2 separate regions of the Homo sapiens genome follow, and region 1 is linked to region 2. The links come from fine-mapping of genetic effects on gene expression. A gene starts in region 2. The other region holds a variant in brackets. All regions are shown on one strand. Distances are from middle to middle.

What was found.
Region 1: its variant is fine-mapped to the expression of KIAA1549 in esophagus mucosa (GTEx, PIP above 0.99).

What each region holds. Positions count from the first base shown.
Region 1 is chr7:138,889,498-138,901,151 of GRCh38, forward strand. KIAA1549 reads right to left here. Exons shown (of 20, transcript NM_001164665.2): 9 at 9,458-9,635; 10 at 4,845-5,029. Among named protein-coding and RNA genes, the nearest start is that of KIAA1549, 86 kb to the right of the region's middle. The variant C/T (reference allele first, on the strand shown) is at 6,408.
Region 2 is chr7:138,975,445-138,987,098 of GRCh38, forward strand. It overlaps KIAA1549, which reads right to left and starts at 5,945. Exons shown (of 20, transcript NM_001164665.2): 1 at 5,639-5,945. The coding sequence starts at 5,825. RefSeq lists silencers at 4,559-4,853, 5,693-5,822, 5,863-6,242, 6,263-6,392 and enhancers at 4,864-5,750, 6,373-6,722.

The DNA.
Region 1 (11,654 bases), 86 kb before region 2:
ACAATATTTTGTTAAGTCAACAACAAGATGCGACACAGGGTCCCTCAAGAAATAGCTGATGACCAGATGAATTTCAAAACGCTCAACTGAAGTACCAAACTGACTGGTTTTTTTCTGGGTAACCAAGAAAACGGCACGTGTCATAAATGAAATATACAAGTCCTCTTGGCTTACTGTTGATTCTGACCAAAGTCTTTAAATACATCCATTAGATCCTTGCACTTCTCACAAACTGAGTGAGTCATCACCTTCTATACCAATAGAAATTTGGCAACCAGTCTGTGCGTATTATGCACAAAACAAAAGCCATCTACACACAGAAGGAAAACCTAGAGGGAACACTGCCCCTCCTCCCTTAGATAATTACCTTCTTTTGTCTCATCTCTACTTGCCAGATCACTTTTTCTAGTTTCTCCACTTCTTTTAAAATAGAACCTAGAGTTCAGTCTGGCTGGTATACAATGTCTCCAGCTCCCTCCCACATGCAGCATAGGTTTAATCAGTATTTTATAAAAGAAGAATCAAGATTAATGAGAGTGTTCAATATTCATATTAGGACCGAGTTATTTCTGAAGAAGGATGGCTCTTTTGTTCTTTCTCTCTTTAACATATCACAGAGGGAACAGGCCACAGTGTCTGTGCCCCACCGGAATACGTCACCAACAAGCCCAGGAGACTGACTGGTGGGCAGGTCAGCCAAGTAATGAGAGAGACGCCTGATGAATGTGAACACGTGGGCCATAAATACAGTACAGCCCAGGTGGCACAAAACGCAGTGAAGCCCACAGTATTCGGGTTAGCCTGAGCCCCTGGGAAGGAGTTGAGATGACAATAGAAACACAGAGCAAATCCCAAAAGTGTCTGAACAAAAATTTGCCATCATGTAGCGAGTGCCATTGAAAGCATTTATTACCTGATTGATGTCATTTGTGAAACGTCACCACAACCACCATGCTGCTTCCATTTAGGAAGTGGAGACAAGGCAAAGTTATTGCCATCTGTTTGTCTTCAGTGCAGCCCCACACGGGCACTCCCGTAACCCTGTGGTCCCGGAGTTTGGGAGAGCAGGGCTCCCAGATTCTCCCACCCACAGGTGACACCCGGCACGGTCAGCCAGCTGTGGGTGAACTGAGACCACCTACACGTTAGGTGTGACAGGCGACCTTTGCAGAGAATCAAACAGCAACCATAGGGAATGAGCTGACCTTGGCTGAGATGGAACGATATGCTCACAGAGCCTCTTTTCAATTCACTGTCCATACTGCCTCCCAAAGGGATCGTTCCAAAAGCAAATGTGTTCAAGCTGCTCTCCCTGCTGAAAACCTTTCAATGCTTGCCCACTGCTTACAGCATAATTTGCAATCCCTTCTATGTCCTGAAAACCCCCCAGGGCCTGGCTCTCTGCCACCTGGCTTTCGGCTGTGCCCTTTTTTATGACCTTTGCTCTAGCTTCCTGAGCTGCCCTCCGCTCCCCCACTGGGCCCGCCTTCATCTCCACCGTGAAGCTTCAGCCCTGGTGTCACCTCCTTGAAGAAGGTAGAAGTACCCCACCACTGCAAATGGGGTGCCCCCCTCCTCTGTGTTCTCCAGACATCCTTATACTCCTGGATGTCTGCTTTCGGATGGCTCGTCCTTCTCCCTTGCTAAAGCCCTGGAATGCAGAGATCGCGTGCTATTTGTGTTGGTAACTGAGCCGGATCTGGTGTGGCTCACAGCAAATGCTCAATGTTTGGTGAGTGACACCCAGTGCCTGAGGCAGCTCCAGCCGGTTGCCCAAAGTGCTGCCCTTTAGAAGCAACCAAGGGCAGTCAGGAGCTCTGGTCTGACACCAGTAACGAGGTGTGGACTATCCCCCATCAGAAGGAATAAGTTTCCATGAGGCCAGTGGCATCCAGCCAATGCCATTCATGATGAAGAGGATCCGGGCTGGAGTTTTTTAGGCAACAGTAACAAATGATGACTTGAGTCTACAGATAGAGAATACAGATAAAAGAAAGCATGGGGTTTTCTTCTTTATTACTGAAAATAAGCAAAGGCTGTGCCTCAAAACAAGACAGAATGGCCTCTCCCTCCTATCATATTTCAAAATTAATCTACTCCCAGACAATCTGAAGAGGTTTCCTTCTCGTTACGAGGGGAAGGGGGGTGCAGATTTTAGGTCAGCAGATTTATTGTTTCCAGATGTTTGCAGCTCTGGGATTTGCTGAAGGATTTCCGAGAGTATGGTGAGGCGCATCAGGAGGTGGGGAGAGCAGAACGGAGAGAGAGACAACAGCCACATGAGCAGGAGACAGAGCTCTTGAAGTCATAGGGGAGGGTGACATCTCTGCACATTACCCTGAGGACGAGGCTAGAGGCCCTTTGCTATGGCCACATGACCTTAAAAGAAACACGTATGAACTAAAGACATTTGTTTTTAAACTAAATGAAGAGATCATTTTCCCATTTTAAACACACGACAAAATCTATAGGGTGGGTTCCTGTGCCAGCAAAACACGACTGAGCTTCTGCAACACTGGCAAGGCTTTGCCCTCCTAACAGTGTCAGAAGACAGTTATTCTTTTGGGGAATCCTCCCTGCAGGACCTTTTCTGTAAACCTGTTGTCAGGATGTATGGGCAGGTCTTTGCAGCCCTGAAGGAAAAAGAGCAGCTCTAAGGGCTGGAAGTTCCATCTGAAACTCTGTCCATTTGATTTACAGCCACATCTGGGACTTGAAAATGTTTAGGAAGTAAAAGTGAGAGAAGGAGAAAGCTTGGGGAATATTCCATTTTGACCCCAAGAGACGCTGTGCTCTGATAATTTACTGAAGTTACAGATAATAGATGGACTTCCATGGCAGTGTATACGTTAGGAAATGTGGCCCATAAAAGACCTAAATACATAACCGTCTACACTGGTTAACTCCCTCTGTAACAACACTCTTCAACAGAACAAAAACATTTCCAAACCTATTGTTGATCTTATTACAGTGAAATTCACACTATGAATCATTTAGTATACCCAGCACTTTTTTTCCAGGTTTCCCCATGCCATTCACCAGTATAACAAGAACAACAAAAGAACCTTAGCAGACTGTGTAAATAATAAACAAAGATAGGCAACAAACATAACATTAATGTATAAAATGCTTTTCATGTACTTGATAGCCATAAGCTTGCAATTTAATAAATACTTTGCATTTTTTTGTTAATTCATATGAAAAGACAAATACTCTTTCTTTGCTTTTACAAAAGTAAAATAAATTTTAAAGTAATGCATATTTTTTTTCCATTCGACAGGTCTAGGTTTGTAATATGCAGAATTTTTCATACCCAAGACAACCAAAATAAAGTTTAAAAATAAATAGGGCAATCTTTTATTCTTTGTTTTTTGACTTTTGCTTGTTTTTATCAAGCTTTTAAAGCAGGATGAGTCCTCCAAATCTGGGAGACCCACGGAAAGTGCATGTTAATCCAGCAGACTGTTAGTAACAGTGGACTGACTACCACGTTCCACTCCCTTGGTAAACACGCTGACTGATACTTATGCTGTACTAGTGAGTGCTCCTCTAGGCCTGGCATGTTTTTGCTCACACCAGGTGAGCTCAATGTTGACCAAAAGTCAATGTCTTTGCTCTGAAACCTGATGTGACCCTCGAATACTATGGAAACTGTTGAAACATACGTTGGAAAAGAAAATTGCTATTTCTATAAACACTTAAGTTGAATGCTTTGGAAAGACATAGGAAAGAGGGGTTACTTAAAAAATCTGCTGTCAAATTAGGTGTGAGTGAATTAACTCAAAAGTCTGCAAAATTAGGAGATAGGGAGTGGGGGGAGGTATTAAAAAAATCGAGAGAACTTTGCATTCAGGTAGCTTTGCTCTTCTCTAAGATAGGGAGTGGGGGGAGGTATTAAAAATCGAGAGAACTTTGCATTCAGGTAGCTTTGCTCTTCTCTAAAGAAACCCAAACTGGAACCTGAAACTGACACGTCATGGGTGTTGTTTATTGTAAGAAAGACCAAACACAATTCCTCTCAGTAGACCAACACTCAAAACAAAACAAGACTTGGGATATGTTGAAGGATTGGCAAATAAATGTCCATTCATATATTTTAAGTTAAAATGTTCAAGGTATGTATTGTTCGTTTTTAATGATCAAGGTGGGTAAGTGGGCTTCCAAATAGGGTGAACAGAAAATAAAGCAACTGACCAATGGAGTTGTACACAAAATAGATAAACAGATCTGAGAAAGTCTGCCTTGGCTCCTATCCTCTGAAAATATCCAGGGATAAAATAAATCAGAATTCGGCCTGGTGCGGTGGCTCATGCCTGTAATCCCAGCACTTCGGGAGGCCAAGGCAGGCAGATCTTTTGAGGCCAGGAGTTCGAGACCAGCCTCGCCAACATGGCAAAACCCTGTCTCTACTAAAAATACAAACACTGGCCAGGTGTGGTGGCACACGCCTGTAATCTCAGCTATTCGGAGACCGAGGCAGGAGAATCGCTTGAACCCAGGAGGCGGAGGCTGCAGTGAGCCAAGCTCACGCCACTGCACTCCAGCCTGGGTGACAGAGCCAGACTCTGTCTCAAAAAATACAAAATAAAATCATAGTAGAACCCGGAGGGCATGTCATGGCTAGGCTTTTATACAGTTTCACATTCTTGGACTGTATTTACTACCACAGAAGGAGGGTTTCAGGAAGCAGAAACAAAGGCAAAGTGATACCACTATTAAAGCCAGAAGATTTCCATAATAGCCCTCCCTCTTCCTCATCTTTCAGTATCAAGAGCCCAAACTCATCCTATCCCTGCCCCACAAAACTGCTTATAGGAACACTGGGGGAAGAGGCTGCCCGTTACCTTCTGACGCTGCTGAATGTTGGCCACAGTGTCAGGCTGAAAGTCTAGCTTGTCTGTGCGGCATAGTTTCCAGTAGAGGATGACAACAATCACCATCACCACCAGCACTGGGATGACCACGCCAACAATGACCCACAAGTTGTTGCTCTGGGATTCCGGAGACGGCCTCTTCACCCTGTCGACAGCTGCAGACAAGGAAGAAAGGTCTTTCAATAATTCCTTCTTCACTCATGCACTAGATTGCACGTGTCTTCTATGAGAAACTCAGAAGTCCCTGACATTCCAGCTCAAGATAGCTGGTTCCAGGTTCTAATCTCCTGATGACAGGAAATGTGACCAGCAGAGAAACACAACATACAATGTTACATCTAGAATACATCAGGGATCACAACGACATATGGATATATCCAAAGGTACATGGCTGAATTAATGGCAAAGCTCAGTTAATTCCAGGTCTCCTGATTTCCAGTTTATTCTACTAGCTCACCCGTAACTTATCACTGCAGGATATTTCCACACCAAAACTGGTTCTGCACAACTTTGTACAAAGGCAGTTCTCTTCAAAAGTGGAGAGAAAAACAGCTGTGTCTCCAGAACATAATCCTGCCCGCTCCATCAAGTACCGCAGGACTCACACCCTCCTAGATCACATAAAGCACATGCATCTCAACTAGGAGTTTATGGAAGAAAACCCTTCATCTCTTTCTCCCTTCCCTCACTACTCCAAGTTTCTCATGTTCACAAATGTTTATTAAGTGTGCTGGACACAGTTTGTAAGCTGGGACTCAACCATGAACAAGCGAAATCCCTTGAGGTGCTTAAGTCCTAGTGGGGGAAAGGAGAAATGATCAAGTAAATGAATCACCGAATAATTTCATATTGCACTAGTGCCAAACACAAAGCAAAACAGAGTAAGGAGATACGACATGTGCACCAGTGCAACTGGTCGTTTCCCCTTCAGCAATGAAAAATGACAAAGAGATGCTGATGTTCGTAGCAGCGCTATTCACGACAGCCTAAAAGATGAAAAGAACTCAAATGCCCATCCACAGATGAATGAATGAACAAAATGTAGTATAGCCATACAATGGAATATCATTCAGCTTTAAAAGGGAAGGAAATTCTATACATGCTGCTGCACAGATGAACCTTGAAAACATCATGATAATGGAACAAGCCAGTCACAAAAGGACAAAATGTATGATTCTACCTACATGAGGTATCTAGAAAAAAACTCATAGAAAGCTTCTGCTTGGAATGATGAAGAAATTCTGGAAATGGATAGTGGTGATGGTTACACAGCCTTGTGAACGTACTGAATGCCACTGAAGTATACATTTAAAAGTGTTAAATTGGTACATTTCTTGATGTATATTTTACTGCAATAAAAAAAGAAGGAAGATGATCCTTATGTTTTCCAAAATGAAGCTTCACTGTGTTAATTTGGAAACTGAAGTCCTAATAAGCGTCCCATAGGCACTGCCTTCATTGCCCCACCTGTGTCTCTCCCTAAACCTTTGAAACATGACTCATCGAAACGGCATTATTTAAGCTACCAGTTGT[C/T]CACTTTTACACGAAGCATATCTTACTCATTTTGGATCCACCACTCCCCACCCTGCTGCCACACCCACCCCACCCGGCCCCCACTTCTCTTTCACGGCATAGGACAGTTGCACTTCAACTCCTCGGCCACTTCATGTCCTTCACTAGCTCTTTGTTTTGCACATGGTGCCTTACTGCTCATTTAAAATGCTTCCTGTTATATAAATGGATAATCCGTGAAGTGCTACGCTTCTGCACTCATTCATCCGGTCTTGACGCCAAATCTTGTCTTTTCAAAAACATCTTAGTTTTCATGGGCAGGGACTAAGTCTTATGCTCCTTTCATACCCTATGATGGTTAACACCTGCTATGGGATCAAAAGGTATCTGCTCAAAGACGTAATAACAAAAAGGGTTCTTGGTGCTGGTTTAACTTTGGGTTTAGACACCTAAGGGAGTGGCAAGGGAGGGAGCAAGCATTCTAAATCAAATGCACCAGGGAAAAAAGCACAGATTAGAGCACAGGCTGCATGGGATGTGGTAAAAAGCAACAAAGTGAAAAACTTGTGTTTTTTAATTTGGGCTGAATATAGTTAATATATGTAGCTCATTTTGCATAAAAGCAACGGACAATATAGAAGTACGGACAGAATCAAACTGAGAAGCTGAGACAACTGGACACTCTTCTTAGTTCTTTTGTGGGTGTGGTTGTTTTTTTTTTTTCTTTTTGAGATAGGGTCTCACTCTATCACTCAGGCTAGAATGTGGTGGCACAATCAAGCTCACTTGCAGCCGCGACCTCCTGGGCTCAGGTGATCCTCCTGCCTCAGACCCCCCAAGTAACTGGGACCACAGGCATGCCCCACCATGCCCAGCTAGCTTATTATTATTATTATTTGTAGAGATGGGGTCTTGCTATGTTTCCCAGGCTGGTCTTGAACTCCTGAGCTCAACTGATCCTCCTGCCTCTATCTCCCAAAGTGCTGAGATTACAGGTGTGAGCCACCACACCTGCCCTCTTCTTACTCTAACCTAGGAAAACCCTGATGAGGCAGAGGTTGATCAAACTGGACCCTGACACCAGTGTCCTGGGGCTGCCTTTGGGCTATCCCTGGTGTTGGCTGAGGCTTCCTTCAATCGCCATCCCTGAGATCCCAGGATCTTTACCCACGTGGTTTTCGGTACAAAACTGAGGAAAAGAGGTGCAAGATCACATCTGAAAGGTGCCCATATTCTATTGCAATTAGCTGTTTAAAATGTCAAGTGCTTGGCTGGAGTAGGGCACGTCTCCTACAATCAGGAATCGCATATATGAAGAACTGTAACGAAGTGCTTTTGCTATTTTTTGCTCACTGCTTTGGAGGAGAACACATCAATATGTGATCATATCTCACATACACAAACACAAATTGCCAATGGTTATTTGCTTAAACCCTCCCATCATCTTCCATAAAATAGAGAAATTATGCCCATCAGCTCTCATCTTGGTTGGTCTCCAGGGACAAGTACAGATTTCATAAAAACCTTCTACTATCAAGGATAATTTAAAAGCTATCATTTTTTAAAAATTGTCTTTATCTCCTACATGTTCTCCATAAAGATTTTTCTGTATTCTCTGATGCTGAATTCCCTCTAAACATTTACCTCTCCTTTTATTGCTGGGAGCAAGTTTCACCATTCTCTTACCAAGACTGCTTGCAGGATCACAAAGGAAAAACACTGACATTAAAAGAGGTGTGGTGGCTCATGGTTGGGATTCCAACACCTTGGGAGGTCAAGGTGGGAGGATTGCTTGAGCCAGGGGTTCAAGACCAGCCTAGGCAACATGGCAAGACCCTGTCTCTACAGATAATAAGAAAAAATCGCTGGGTGTAGTGGTGGTGACTGTGGTCCTAGCTACTCAGGAGGCTGAGGCAGGAGGATCACCTGAGCCCAGGAGTTTGAGGCTGCAGTGAGCTACGATCAAGCCACTGCACTCCAGCCTGGGTGACAGAGCAAGACCCTTTCTCAAAAAAAAAAAAAAAAAAAAAAAAAAAAAAAGAGGAATCTGATTCACACCGTAAAGGACTATTTAGAAAAATACACTCTTCCATGTGCCTCCTTTTTCTTCAATTTTAAATACTCAAAATCTGTGAGGTGGGGCCGGGTGCAGTGGCTCACACCTGCAGTAATCCCAGCACTTTGGGAGGCCAAGGCAGGCAGATCACAAGGTCAAGAGATCGAGACCATCCGGGCCAACATGGTGAAACCCCGTCTCCACTAATAATACAAAAATTAGCTGGGCATGGTGGTGTGCTCCTGTAGTCCCAGCTACTTGGGAGGCTGAGGCAGGAGAATCACTTGAACCCGGGAGGCAGAGGTTGCAGTGAGCCGAGATCACACCACTGCACTCCAGCCTGGTGACAGAGTGAGACTCCATCTCAAAAAAAAAAAAAAAAAAGCAAACAAATCTGTGAGGTGGAAAGGAAACTACTGACAGCAGCCAGGGCCAGGCAGGCAGGAGTGAAACCTTCCAACAATAATAAAGAAACTTCAAAATACCTCTGTCTACACTGTGGAGTGACGTGAGGATAGGTGGGAGAGAAACAGGACTGAAAAGGGGAAGGATCAAGGACTTCTCTGTGTTAAAAGACCCTGAAGGAAACCAATAAATTCAGGGTGCACCTCCCAGCTTCCTGCATGACTCACTGTCCCCGCCAATGTTCAAAATATGACACAGAAGATTTTGGAATAAATACAGAGCAAACACATTATTTTGCCTTAGACAAAATTTATAAAAAAAGTAGTAGTACAGGAATGAGGGACAGATATTAAAGTTGATGTACTATAAATCATTATTAACACCCCACCTACAAAATGCTAGGTAGAAAAAACAGCAGTGGAGGCTAAACCTACAAGCAATTGAAATCCAAATAAAGAAGGTCTTGGTGAATGAATTTTAACAACTGGCACTTCACCATCAGGGTTATACACACATCGGAATGCTTTACATTCAGAGCTCACTGTCAGAACGAGCCTGGCTTTGGTGCCCAGCACAGCACAGCACAGACGACAACACCTCAGGCACTTACGCTGGGCAATGACACCTTGAATTCGGTAACCCAAGATGATGGCTGCTCTCTGGAGGTCCATTTTGTTAATCAGGTCCGAAGACTTGACTGCACTGAGTCTTTCTCCATCTTGATCCTCCACAAAGTAGATGAGCTGTACCGGATTGTCATCTCCCTCCAGCCTCGACACATTTACCACCTGAAAGATAGCAGAAACCATTCACATTGCAGAAGCTCATGTTTCTAGATGCCCTCTCTCAGGTTGCTGAATCCTGGCTGTGTCACTCAGGATTTATTCCAATCCTCATAATAAGCTCCGTAAGCCATTCAGGGGCCCAGAATCACCATGGTGCTCTCTGTTGATGGGAAGAGGGACAGTGGGGAGTTCCTTTGTGTGGAGTAACAGGTTGCTTCATCTCGCTCTACATCTTTTCTGGGGCCAAGGGGCAGGGAGGCTGCACAGAACCAGGGCTGGCGAGTCCAGGTGGTCTAAAATCATCCCCACAATCTCTGATGTGCTGACCACGTCATAAGAGAGCATCATCCTCCCAACATTAACTGTAGGATTAGGTACATCCCTGGTTCTCTGAAACTATTAATGGTTCTACCCAATCCTTTCTTCAGCCTATTGGTATTTCCTCCTCATTCTGCTAGGGCAGGGCTTCTCAACCTCAGCTCTACTGACAATCCCTTGACATGGGGTGCACTGTAGATGGTTAGTAGTATCCCTGCCCTCTACCCACCAGGTACCCCCATCCTGCACCACCCAAGTTACAACCAAAAACATCCCCAGACACTGCCAGATGCACCCTGGAGGACAAAATCACCCCCACCCACCACAGGTCTATGGACAATAAACCTCATAAATTCATAATCTTGTGGGTCAAATAATACTTTGATTCATCCCAAAACTTCTCTCTTTCTGGTGTTAAAAGACAGTTTTTTATGCCCTTATTTCAAAATCTAGCACACTTGACATATCGTACCTTTTCATTTCACTCTATTTCTCTAATAATATGCAACAATGTGATTACCCCTTTAGACTCCAGCAAAACTCTGAGCTTCTGTCCTGAGAAAAGGATCAGCGAGGGCTCCGAGCTCCTTATTTTACATGTGCCATTTAAATTGCTGGTCTCTACATTTGCCATTGGCAACATGCAGCTGCTACTTCTCTGTCCACACGTATGGGTTTGTAACACTGCCCTGTGCTCTGGACACAGCTGCTGGACCCCTCCTTCACCACGGGAAACTTCTGGCAGATCAGCAATTTCACGATTTCACTGTGAACTCCTTCTTCCAGATCGTGTCTAAAGATCCTTAACAACACACGTCCAAACCCTCTTCCCTCAACAATCTGTTCTTTATGCTTCGTCCTGAGAACTCCCTCCCTGACAACGGTACAGTGGTGATTAATTTTTTATTAGCTTTTAGAATGGAATGCTATGCAAGGGCTACTGAAAAGGAAGTAGATTATATCCATCTGTCTCTCTACCCATGTACCTACTTATTCCATTTTAAAAGTTCTAATAAATTTAAAAAGTATAGTTTCTTCTTCTAGAAATCACAGTCCCCAAAATCCAGTGATACCCACCTTGATTAAAGATTCTACAAGTCTGTCTAGTGCTACAGTTTGGATGTTGGACCCCCTCCAACTCTCTGGTTGAAATGTGATCCCCGATGGTGGTGGGGGAGCCTAATGGGAGGTATCTGAGTCATGGAGCAGATCCCTCATGAATGGTTTGGTGCTGTCCTCGAGGTAATGAGTTCTTGCTCTACTAGTTCCTGAGAGAGCTGGTGTTAGAAAGGGCCTGGCACCTCCCTTCCCTCTCTCTCGCTTCCTCTCTCGCCATGTGATTTTTATACTGGCTTCCCTTCGCCTTCCAGCAAGAGGGGAAGCAGCCTGCGGCCCTCGCCATGACACCAGCACCATGCTTTTTGTATAGCCTGAAGAACCATGAGCCAAATAAACCTCTTTTCTTTACAAACCCAGCCTCAGGTATTCCTTTACGGCAACATCAATGGACTAAGATGTCCAGGCAGAATGTAAGCCAAGAAAATCTAATCCCAGTATCCTTTCTAGACTACTGCCTATGAGATTCCTATCTGGAACCCTTATAACCATGGGAGTCATCATCACTTTGGTTAACATTTTCAATTTCAAAATTTATTTTCTGAGCAAAATCACATCTCTCTAGAAATTACACAGCCAATTAAAGTT
Region 2 (11,654 bases):
AAGTGCATTCCAAGACATCCAAGATGTTGACTTGATATGTAGGAGCTACAGGGAGAAATGAGCTACAAGGAGCTAGAGGGTTAATGAGATTAGCGCTAATCTCATTAACCCTTTCTTACACCGAGGAGGAAACCCAGGACAAGGTAACTTGTCCATAGTCACAAAGTTACAGGCAGATTTGCATTTGCACACACCCAGGTTTTTTAACTCACCTTTTAACAAATCCTGCTGCCTAACAACAAGAAAAAGAAATCACATCATTGTGAGCTCCAGATGAAAGGTGGGTGGTCACAACTTGAAAACAAATTAGATCAGTTAGAACAGTGTCTTCCTATCTGGGAAAATCAACCTAGTGTAATTATAATGACGGTAATTAGCTGCCTCTATCATTCAGGGCACTGATAGAAAACCTGTGGCTCCCACGTCCCTAGTGACTTGTAACAACTCCCTGGCTGGGTTCTGTTTTCAGAATTAAGTGAGGCACTTCCTGACAAGCACTGCAGCAGCTGTTCCCAAACGGGCAGGAGTGAGCATTGAAAATGCAGTCCTCTGCACCCTTTCACTCCCAACCCAAACAAAACCAAGCAAAAACATGTAACAAAAAATGCTTATTTTATTTTACCTTATCTTATTTTATCTTATTTTATTTTGAGATGGAGTCTTGCTCTGTCACCCAGGCTGGAGTGCAGTGGCGCGATCTCATTTCATTGCAACCTCTGCCTCCCGGGTTCAAGCAATTCTCCTGCCTCACCCTCCCAAGTAGCTGGGATTACAGGCACCTGCCACCACACCCGGCTAATTTCTGTATTTTTAGTAGAGACCGGGTTTCACCATGTTGGCCAGGCTGGTCTCCAACTCCTGACCTCAGGTGATCCCAAAGTGTTGGGATTACAGGCGTGAGTCACCGCGCCCGGCCTCAACATAACGATTTTAAATTAGCTGTTCTAACAGTGAAAAGACAACTGCAAGATACCAATGGTATACAGTAGTCCCCCTCCTCCAAGGTTTCGGATACCGGAGGACAACTGCAGTTTGAAGATATTTTGAGATATTCTGAGGTATTTTGAGATACAGCATATTCACGTTTTATTACAGTAGACTGTTAGAACTGTTCTGTTTTGTTATTATTGTTAATCTCTTACTGTGCCTCATTTTTTAATTAAACTTTATTGCAGGTATGTACATATAGGAAAAAACCATGGTATATACAGACTTCAGTACTACCCAAAGTTTCAGGCATCCACTGGGGGTCTTGGACCACATCCCTTGCAGATAAGGAGGGACTACTATATCTTCAAAATACTGTTAATTTTCAGTTACTGGGTTTACCATATCCGGATCAGTGGTTCCAATGCTCAGGGGCTAAAACGGAGCTGTCAACTTGTTAAAATGAAGATTCCCAGGCACTGCCACCAAAGAGTCTAATTTAGAGGCTAAGGGTGAGTCGTAGACATCTAAATTCTTAACAAGCACCCCCACATCCCCAAATGATGTTGATGCAGGAGGCCTAGGGGCCACACTTTTGAAACATTTAAGTATTTGTTTATAATATCCTAAACGACTCACAAAGCATAAATATTCACCTAGAAATGGCCAATAATAAAACAGCACATTAAGAAAAAAATTTCACACACCATAAGCATAAATGCAATAAAAAAATTATTAAAAGAACAAATGGCAGATCTTGCTAATCAAAACAACCAAAAACTTCTACATTTCAAAATTATGTAAAATTTAAAAGAAATTCCTTTGGAAGGGGAAAACGCAACATATAGAAGGAAAAATGGTTGCTATCCTTCTAATACATAAAGATTTAAATACATATCTATGCCACAACAGGTAAATAAATAAAAATACAGAGAAAATTCACAGAATACAAATACAAAATAAAAAATATTCAATTCTAAAGCAATAAAACCGTGCAGGTTAAAACAATGTATTACAAATTTATTTAACAAGGGCTTTTAAAGTAACATTCAATGCCAGTGATGAAGTGAATACTCAATGCAAGTGATAATGGAAGGCCCCTGCGTAAGCTTCAAGGGCTTATGTCAGCATTATAACTTTCAAAAATTGCTTCATTCAAAAATCACATACTGAGTACCTACTAGGGGCCCAGCATTTTGAACAAAAGATGCAGAAATCCAGCCTGGTGGGCCTTACATTTTAATCACACTCTAATACCCCTTCCACAAATGTATACTCAAGAAAACACACACACACACACACACACACACACACGGAAAGAAACATGCACAAAGCCTTTTTTTTTTGAGACGGAGTCTTGCTCTGTCGTCCAGGCTGGAGTACAATGGCGCCATCTCGGCTCACTGCAACCTCTGCCTCCCTGGTTCGAGCAATTCTCCTGCCTCAGCCTCCCAAGTAGCTGGGATTACAGGCACATGCCACCACACCCAGCTAATCTCTGTATTTTTAGTAGAGACGGGGTTTCACCATGTTGGCCAGGATGGTCTCAAACTCCTGACCTCAGGTGATCCGCCCACCTCGGCTTCCCAAAGTGCTGGGATTACAGGCGTGAGCCAGCGCGCATGGCCAGCAGAGCCTTCTCTATGTAGCTATTCATCAGCATTACTTACAGCAACCCAAAAAATGGAAATAAAAGAATAAATCATTAGGATAGAAAATAGTTTTCAAATAAGACTTAATGAATGGAAAAATGCTTAAGTTAAATGTAGAGTGGAAATGGTAGTAAATACAATTGTGCATATAATTCTTTTTTTAATGTTAACAACAAAAAAACGATAAAATTACTTAGTGTTACCTACAGGCTGTGAGATTATGGGTGACTGGTTTCTGTACCTTTCAGTAATTTCCAAATTCCCTACAAAGCAATCTATTTCATAATAACTATTACTTTTTAAAAACTTATCTCTGAATAAGGTGAAGAAACTGGGCATGATTCTTTGTTTTTATACTGTGGATGGCTAATCACTTAAGAGCAATGCATTCAAAAGTAAGTCCAAAGCATTACAAGTTGTTTCCACAACAGTCAATGGTTAAGACCAAACTTGTAAATTTTTTTTTTAAAAAAACACACTCAAAATGCTGAATGAAATACAAATAGACAAGAAATCGATTTAACATAGAGATTTAACCAAAGACTGTAATAAGGGGACCACCTGGAAGGTGGACTCTATTGAACAAAAGTTAACAAGAGAAGCCAGCTGAAGGAGGAGATAGCTTTCAGACAGCCACGGAAGGGAATGCTGCCTCACATAGGAAGTCCAAAACAGGTCTAAGCCATGCCATTTTCTGACTACCACTGCTTATTCCTTAGAAAGAGAACCAACCACCACAGCAGTGTTCAGCAAAGCTCTCCTACATTCCAAATCTCCTGGTGAAAATACCACACTCAGGACTGGGAGGGCAGCCCAAGCAACTGCAACGCACCCTCTTCCCAGGATCAACAGCACCGCCCAGGCACCCTACACACACCCTAGCTACATCAGGAAGCCACCCTCCACCAAGATCGTTCCTCACAGTCTTCAAGTAGATGGGGTCACCTCCAGCAGGTCATCCATAAGGAATCCTGCCTTTCCTGTCCGGGAATGGTCTGTGCAAGGGTTTGTACTTCCTTCACTGCTCTGTGTTTCCAGCTGGATCCTGGAGCACAGGGGCTGTGCCCTCCACTTCTTAGTTCCTAGTCTATGAGCCTGGCAGCGGCTGAAGCCAATATACAAACCAGTGAAAGGATGAAGTCTCTTTCCATGATGTCAGGTCTAGAATGGAAATATTATTAATTTCATGTCTCCAGGTTGAATATTTGTATTGGGGGTAGAGGGGAAGCAGGAAAGGACTTCCAAAGAAGAGAAGGTTAGGGATGGGCAGTGCAAACAGCTTCACTATTTATTTTAAAGTTACCAGAAGCACTTATATTCTCCACAACCTCTGCAGTACACCCAGATGGCCACATTCATATGGGGAAGCCATCAGGCACAGAAAGGAAGCATGTCATAGAGTCTGAAGCCAAACCAACCTAAACTCAAAGCCTTAGTTTCCTCATCTGTAAAATGGGGATAACTATGCCTAACTCACAACGTGATTGGATCGTGTATATAAAATTCAACATCTGGCACACAAAAAGCACTCAGGAGATGGAAACCATTTATCTGCTGTGTCTTATGACAGATGAATCCACGAGTATCAGATGGGCTCTCTTTGTTGACTAAAGCCAAGAGACCCTTGACAATGATCTCTTCTCCTCTGGACACACAGGGCTGGAACTCGCAGGAGCAGGACTGAGACGGGAGGTCCTAGGTTAGAGTAAGGTGTTTGCACTAGCTGTATACTGCCTAAAAGAGACTCATTCTGTCACCCCAACCCTGGTTCCACCCAGCTATGGGAAATCTCTGCAGAGGCTTCAGGTGTGGATATGTCTATGGGCCAAGAGCGGGGGTGGGAGGCAGGGAAAGTGATGACTGTGACCTTGAGCAAGGCACTTCTCTGCCTTAGTTTCCTCTTTGGTAAGCAGAGTGGACCTGTTCCATGATCCCTGAAGTCCTCCCTGTGCTTCTATTGTACCATCCCCTCTAGGGCACTGGTTATAATTCTCACAGGTCCAAGGGACACCTTCAAATGTGTTCCAATTCCTCCCAGCCACTGAGTAGCCCTTTGGCCCTGCTCCCACGAGAAAGGAGGATTCGGAGCAGCGTTCACGGCTTTCTGGTTTTTGTTCTGTGTGCAGCAGCTCTCCACCCCTAGCTGCTCCTTCCACCTTTCCTTTTCCGCCTCAAAGTGGTCAAGTGCCTGTGCAGGGGCAATCGCTGGCCTGCAGTGTCAGCTCAGAGACGGTTTCCAGACCATCCTGTGTACAGGCTCAGGGTGGACAAATAAACATTTTGGAGAAGCAATAGGAATTAAATCATTTCTTCCACAACAAAACCCTTATGCTTCTTCATAAATCATGCCTCTTCATTCCATACTGATGAACAGTCACTAAATTGCATCTGTTATAAAAACAGCCCTTACTCCTTTCATGCCCAGACACTTAAGAATCAAAATATTTTCACACTCCATTGTACTAATAATGCCTTGCAGAAGTAATACCAATAGCTATTTCCCTGGAAAGATCCGTGGCCAGGGCGCTTTCCAAGAGGTTTTCTTTGAATGTTCTTTGTGTCCTGCTGTACGGGGGGACACGGCCGGCCTGCCCGCATCTGGGGGACGCTGGGCTTGTCCCGGTAATGCAATACTCTTTTAAAGCACACCTCGAATCCACCTCTTCGCCCCGACAATAAAGTATCTCAAAACATTCGATATGCCACATCATACAGCCTTGACAAAAAAGCACGCCGGTGCCTGCATTCTGCAGGAAAAACCAGGCACATTCTGAGATGAAGCCACCAGACCCGCTTCGGGTTCCATGGACAAGAGAACAGCTTTGCAGACCCCTTAGCAAGACCGGCCAGAAGCCGCTCGCTTGTTCGTTTTAATTATTTATTTCCCCCGTGCCTTTATTTGTTGGGCCCCAGAAGAATGGCAAAGCATCTTCCAGAAAGGACGGCGAGGGAGCTGGAGAATAAAAGAGGATGGGCGGGGAAAGCCGGGGTTTTGAAAACAGCAGCGATAAAGGCAGGCGGGGTCGCGGCCGCGTTCCGAGGGTCTCGGCGGAGCTTACCTGGGGCGCACGAGGCCGGCCGGGCCAGCAGCAGCAGCCAGAGGCCAGGAAGCAGCAGCCCCGGGCGGCGGCGGCGGGCGCAGCGGGCGGAAGGCCGTCGGCCGCTCGGCCCCGGGGCCAGCGCGACCCCGGCGCGGGGCTTCCCCTCCATGGCCGCGCCTCGGCGTCGGCGCCGCGCCCCCGGCATTCCCGGCCGGCGCCCCGGCCCGGCCTCGCGGCTCAGCGGCTCTCGGGTCCGGGAGGGGCGGCCGCTGCGGCTGCGGCTGGGACGGGGCGCCGCGCACCGGCGCGGAGGGAGGCCGGAGAGGCGGGGGCGGGCCGGGCCGGAACCGAGGACAGGGGCGCCAGCCGCACGCCCGCCTTGCCGCTCCGCCCCCTTCGGAGCCTCGGAGCCGCTGCCCGGCAACGCGCGGGCCCGGGCGCGGGACGGCGAGCACCCCCTCCCGGCCGGCCGGACGCCTGCCTGCCTGCCTGCCTGCCTGCCTGCGGGGCGGCCGGGGCAGCGTGCGCGGGGCTCGGCGCGGCAGAGGCGGCAAGGGCGGCGAGGCGGCGCGGCCCAGCCCTCCCCCAGGACCCGCCTTCCGGAGGGAGCGCGAGGGGCTCGGGGGGCCTGGGCCGGGCGGTGCCGCCCCGACCCGCACCCAACCCCGGGTCCCGCCGCGCGTTCCCCGGGGCGCCCGGATCAGGGTAGGCCGGCAAGCCGGGGGAGGGGTCCTCTCGCCTCCCTCGCTCCTCCTCTCCCGCCGACTCCTTGCGGGCAGCAGGTGTGTGGGGCGCCGCGCTCTCAGGACAGCCTCGGGGCCGCGGAGGGGACAAAGCCAGACAAAGTCGGGCTCCTGCGCTAGAGCTCAGCGTGCAAGGCAGGGGCGAGCAGAGCGCACGCAGCTCTCCCCCGCCTTCCTGCCTTAAGAAGGTGCGGCCACCTCTGCGGGTCTTCGGGAAGCGACCCTGCGCTCAGGGCCTGGGAGGCCCGCGGGACCCTGCACTTAGCAGGCCTTGAGCAGGCGGCTGCTGAAGCGAATGGGCGTGGAGCTGGGGAGACCCGCAAGGCCAGGCCGTTTTAGGGAAAGTGGCGCTCCTGAGAGGTGGAGAGAATGCCCAGAGAGCGTTTGAGGGTTGGAGTCCGCGGGGGGAATGAGGAACGGGAAGAAGGGAGTTGACATCTGTCAAGTACCTACTGTGTGCCAGGCACGTCACTCTGAAGACGCCCCGTGGCTTCAGGGTCTAGGGAGGAGGAATTGGAAGTTTTGAATCGTTGCATCCCACTGGCATTGTTGCATCAAGCAGATATTAACGGTGTGTGTGGGGGACACTATCTCGTGCAGAAAAACTATGGCAGACAGCGGAAAAGGTGAATCATTACACTGGCAGAGGGATCCTCGCGGCTATTCAGTCGGGTTCCCCTGCCAGGCCCAGCCCTTGAAGGGGCTGCCCAGCCTTGCAGCTCCAACTCTTCTGGACTCCTTGCCCTTGGCGAATAGTTCTTCCTAAGAATAGGACAGGGGCACTCTTCTGTAGGTACACACCTGGTCCTTACAGGTGGGTACTTGAAACCTGGTAGTTTCAAGGAAAATGAGAATAAAGGTTAAAAAAAGCTTTTGTTGATGTTCCTGGTGTTTTTACACGTTATTGTAACCCCCCATCATACAGCCCCTATGTTTATTACAGTAACTGCTCCTGTCTCCCAAAGAGGGTTCTGCGTGCACACCCAGGTAAGTACCTAAGAGAAACTGCCCAGATATGTCTGGTCCCAGGACACCATGGCCATAGATCTGGGACCTCTTATTCACACACTTATCTTTATTCTCTGAACTCTCTATAACAGCACATTTGACCACAAACCACTGCCTTCGTGCAACTCTTGAATGGTCTTGTCCTGTTGTGTTGTTTTATCTTTTATGAATTTATGCTTTGCACACACAGCCCCCACCCCACCTCCAATAAATTAATATGAAATTCAAATATGGTGCTATCCTGCTTAGGATTTCTCATAGCCCCAGTAAGCCCTCAGTAGACAATCGTTGGTTTGAGCCAGAGCATGCATTCCGCCCGTGAAGAGGTTCCATCTTCAGATTTGGCCTCAGCCTCCTGCAAGCTGCCATCTACACTAGACCCGTTGGTGTCAGAGAAAAAAGCCTCCCTCGGCCATGCGCGGTGGCTCACGCCTATAATCCCAGCACTTTGGGAGGCCAAGGCAGGCAGATCACCTGAGGTCAGGAGTTCAAGACCAGCCTGGCCAACATGGCAAACCCCGTCTCTAATAAAAACACAGAAAAATTTACCCAGGCATGGTGGCACGTGCTTGTAATCCCAGCTACTCAGGAGGCTGAGGCAGGAGGATCACTTGAACCCAGGAGGCGGAGGTTACAGTAAACCAAGATCACGCCACTGCACTCCAGCCTGGGTGCCACAGCAAGACTCCATCTCAAAAAAAAAAAAAAAAAAAAAAGGAAAAGAAAAAAGAAAGGAGTCTCCTTCTCCATTCTCTGCAAACTCAAAGACAATAGTGTTTGCCCTGCCATTAAGAGATTGATCAGCTGGAAGTAAAAATAAAAATTGGAACCCTGAGATACTAGAAATGACTCATGGACACCAAAGTGTCCGTGGAAAGTGAGGTCCCTAGGGTCCCTTAGTCTCCCAGCTCTGAAGGCATAAAACAAAATCTTACCTCTGTTAGGATTTAAGGCATTCTGCCTCCATGTCTGGGAAAATGTCTACCAGGCTCTGACAGTCCAGCTGGTAGGTGGTGTTACTCTGCAGACTCAGAGGGGATGAGTGGTCCTTGGAGGTAGGGGAGTGTGTGCAAATGTGTGTGTGTGTGTAAGATTTTAAAATCGATTTTAGAGATCATCTCATCCAATTCTCATAGATAAAGAAACAAGCCAGAGAGGTTAGTTTATTTCCATAAGGCTCAACTCCAACTGGAATTGTCGTCTCCAGTTAAACCACACACCCTCCAGGGGAGGGGGAAAATTAACCTGGGTCCTCGATAGGCTTACAATCTGGTTTGGAGACAGGGAGAGGTAGGCTCAGTACTATCCTTAGACCTAGACGAAGCGGGCCCCACTCTGGCCTTCTCAAACTGCACCTCTCTCCTCAGGACAGAGTCTGTGAAGCCCAGGAAGCACCCTCACCAGCAGCCCATCTTCCCATGCTCAGGTGCCCAGGACCCCAGAATCCTGCCCATTTCACCCCAGGCTCATCTTCAGGCCTATGTGGCCTCTTCCTCAAGTCCATTCTCCCAAGGCTGCACCAAGGGTGTGTCTGGTCCCACGGGGTAGTTGTTTGCTAGGGAGTGGCAAAACTTACGCAGGAGGCATCTCTAAAGATGCGCACATGAAACCTATAGGAATGAAGCAGAGGACCAGGGATGGGAAGAGAAGATCGGGCATGGCCCATATTCACATGGCAACCTGGCTGCGATGTTCTGCTCACAACTGCAGGAAGTCTGCGAATCCTGCCTGTGAACCAGCCTAACCATTCTGAAGACATACGTTTGTTAAGGTAGAACAGACATATTTAATAGTTTGCTTGCTTGGCATGTAACTTGCTGATGAAAATCTGGTCATCGATGTGAAATGGCCAAAATGGCCAAATGTGAAATGGGCTGCGTGAGCCCCTATTTGCACTCTTGACCTGGGCCCCTCAATTCTTAGGGTCTGGATAAGGATGGGACAGAGGGACTGAAGTTAGAGGATGGCTGGAAGTCGGTAGAGGGTAGTGTGAGAGTCCTAGAATAGGAATCAGGACAGCTGAGTTCTGCGTTCTGCTCTGTCACAGAAAAGTTTATGAACTTGAACAAAATGCTTCACCCTACTCTCAAACCTCAAATGTTCTTATCTGATGATGGGCTTCACATGCCTACCTTGCTTAGCTGTGGGTTCGGTTCTTAAGAGAATTATACAAAATAAGATGAATGTTCACAAAGGTCATTCATTAAATTCAATGAATATTTTTTGAGCATGTACCATATGCCAGGCAGTGCAGTGGGCACTGGAGGTATAACGGTGAACAAAACAAAGGCCCTTCCTCGTGGAACTTATGTTCTAGTGAGAGGAGACAGGCAATCAGTAAGTGAGCCTTCGGCTGATGACAACAATTTGCAGAATAACAAAGAGGGAAAAGGAGTGAGGGAAGGGTCAGTGTTACTGTGTTAAATAGAATAGTCAGGGATGATCACCCTACTAAGGTGACATTGGGCCATGGGGATAGCTGGGGAAGAGGGTGTCAGGCAGAGGGAACAACTGTGCAAAGTGGAGAAGTAGCCAGAATAAACATTCAAAAAATATTTACTGAGTCCCTACTAAGTAAGCGCCCCGTAGAGTCATGTGCTAAATGATCAGTAAGATTAATTAGGCCGGGCACAGTGGCTCACGTCTGTAATTCTAGCACTTTGGGAGGCTGAGGCAGGTGGATTGCTTGAGCCCAGGAGTTTGAGACCAGCCTGGGCGACATGGTGAGACTCCCATCTCTATGAAGAAATCCAAAACATTAGCTAGGCATGGTGGCGTGCACCTGTAGTCCCAGCCACCCGAGAGGCTGAGGTGGGAGGATCACCTGAGCCTGAGGAGGTCAAGGCTGCAGTGAGCCGTGATCATGCCAGTGCACTTCAGCCTGGGCAACAGAGCTAGACCCTGCCTCAAAAAAAAAAAAAATAATAATTGTCTACAGTTTTTTCAAGGAGCTTACAGTCTTACGGGAAAAAAAAAAACAAATTTTAAAAACCTACATATTGCAAAGTAGAACATGACAGATGTCCGAAGGAAGTTATAAAAAAAAGTTCAAAGAAGTAGAAATCATATTTGGCACAAGAGATCAAGCAAAGCTTCAGTGTAGTGTTGCATGGAAGCTGGGTGTTAGGGGGCGCCTAAAAAATGAAGAGGACTTGGACAGCTAAAGAGAACAGGACAGGTGTTCCAGGTGGAGGGAACCAACAGTACAAAAATATAAAGGCAGGAATGCATGAAATTTATCTAGCTGATGGCCAGATCAGCTAGAGCAGTGGTTCACAATGCTGACTGCAAATTAAAATCACCTGGACACCACAAACAAAACAAAACAGAACACCCCCAGGCCACACTTCAGACCAGTAAAATCCAAATCTCTGCAGACCAGGCTTGGACAGCCCTGTCTTTTAAAAGCTTCCCAGGATTCCAGTGTGTAAGAACCATTGAGCTAGATGTCTAAGAGTGAGACTTTATAATCACTTACTGAAAGTGGTAAGACATACCAGACCTAGAGAGGCGCAGCAGAGAAGAGAGAAAAGGGAAGCTGATATAGAACAAGGAGAGCTTAAAGATCTGGCTGAAGGGTTTGGACTTAATTTTGTAGGTGACGGTGGATCATTAAAGATTTGTTCAGATATTATTAGAACTAAGCACAAGAAGGATTACTCTATTAACATTATATAAGATGATTTGGAAAGAGAAAAGACTAAAGAGGAGACCAATTAAAACAAGATTTTTTTTTTTTTTTTTTTTTTGAGATGGAGTCTAGCTCTGTCACCAGGCTGGAATGCAGTGACGCAATCTATGCTCACTGCAACCTCTACCTCCCCGGTTCAAGCGATTCTCCTGCCTCAGCCTCCCGAGTAGCTGGGACGGCAGGCGCACATCACCACGCCCAGCTAATTTTTTTGTATTTTTAGTAGAGGCGGGTTTTCACCATGTTGGCCAGGCTGGTCTTCATCTCTTGACCTCGAGATCCGCCTGCCTCGGCCTCCTAAAGTGCTGGGATTACAGGCGTGAGCCACTGCACCTAGCCAGAACAAGATCTTAATGCTGCTGCATGAATATCAAGGATCAAAATATTTTTCACCATCAAACAGACAAAACTTTTAAAATTTTGATTATATTCATTTGTATATTCAAGTGTATAGCAAAATAGGCACTCTCGAATTCTACTGGTGTAGCCATTTTGGAGGATAATTTGACCTTATCTATCAAAATATAAAATCAGCTCACTTCCTTTTCCTTTTTTTTTTTTCAAGTCAAGTTTAATTCAGCTGGCAAATTTA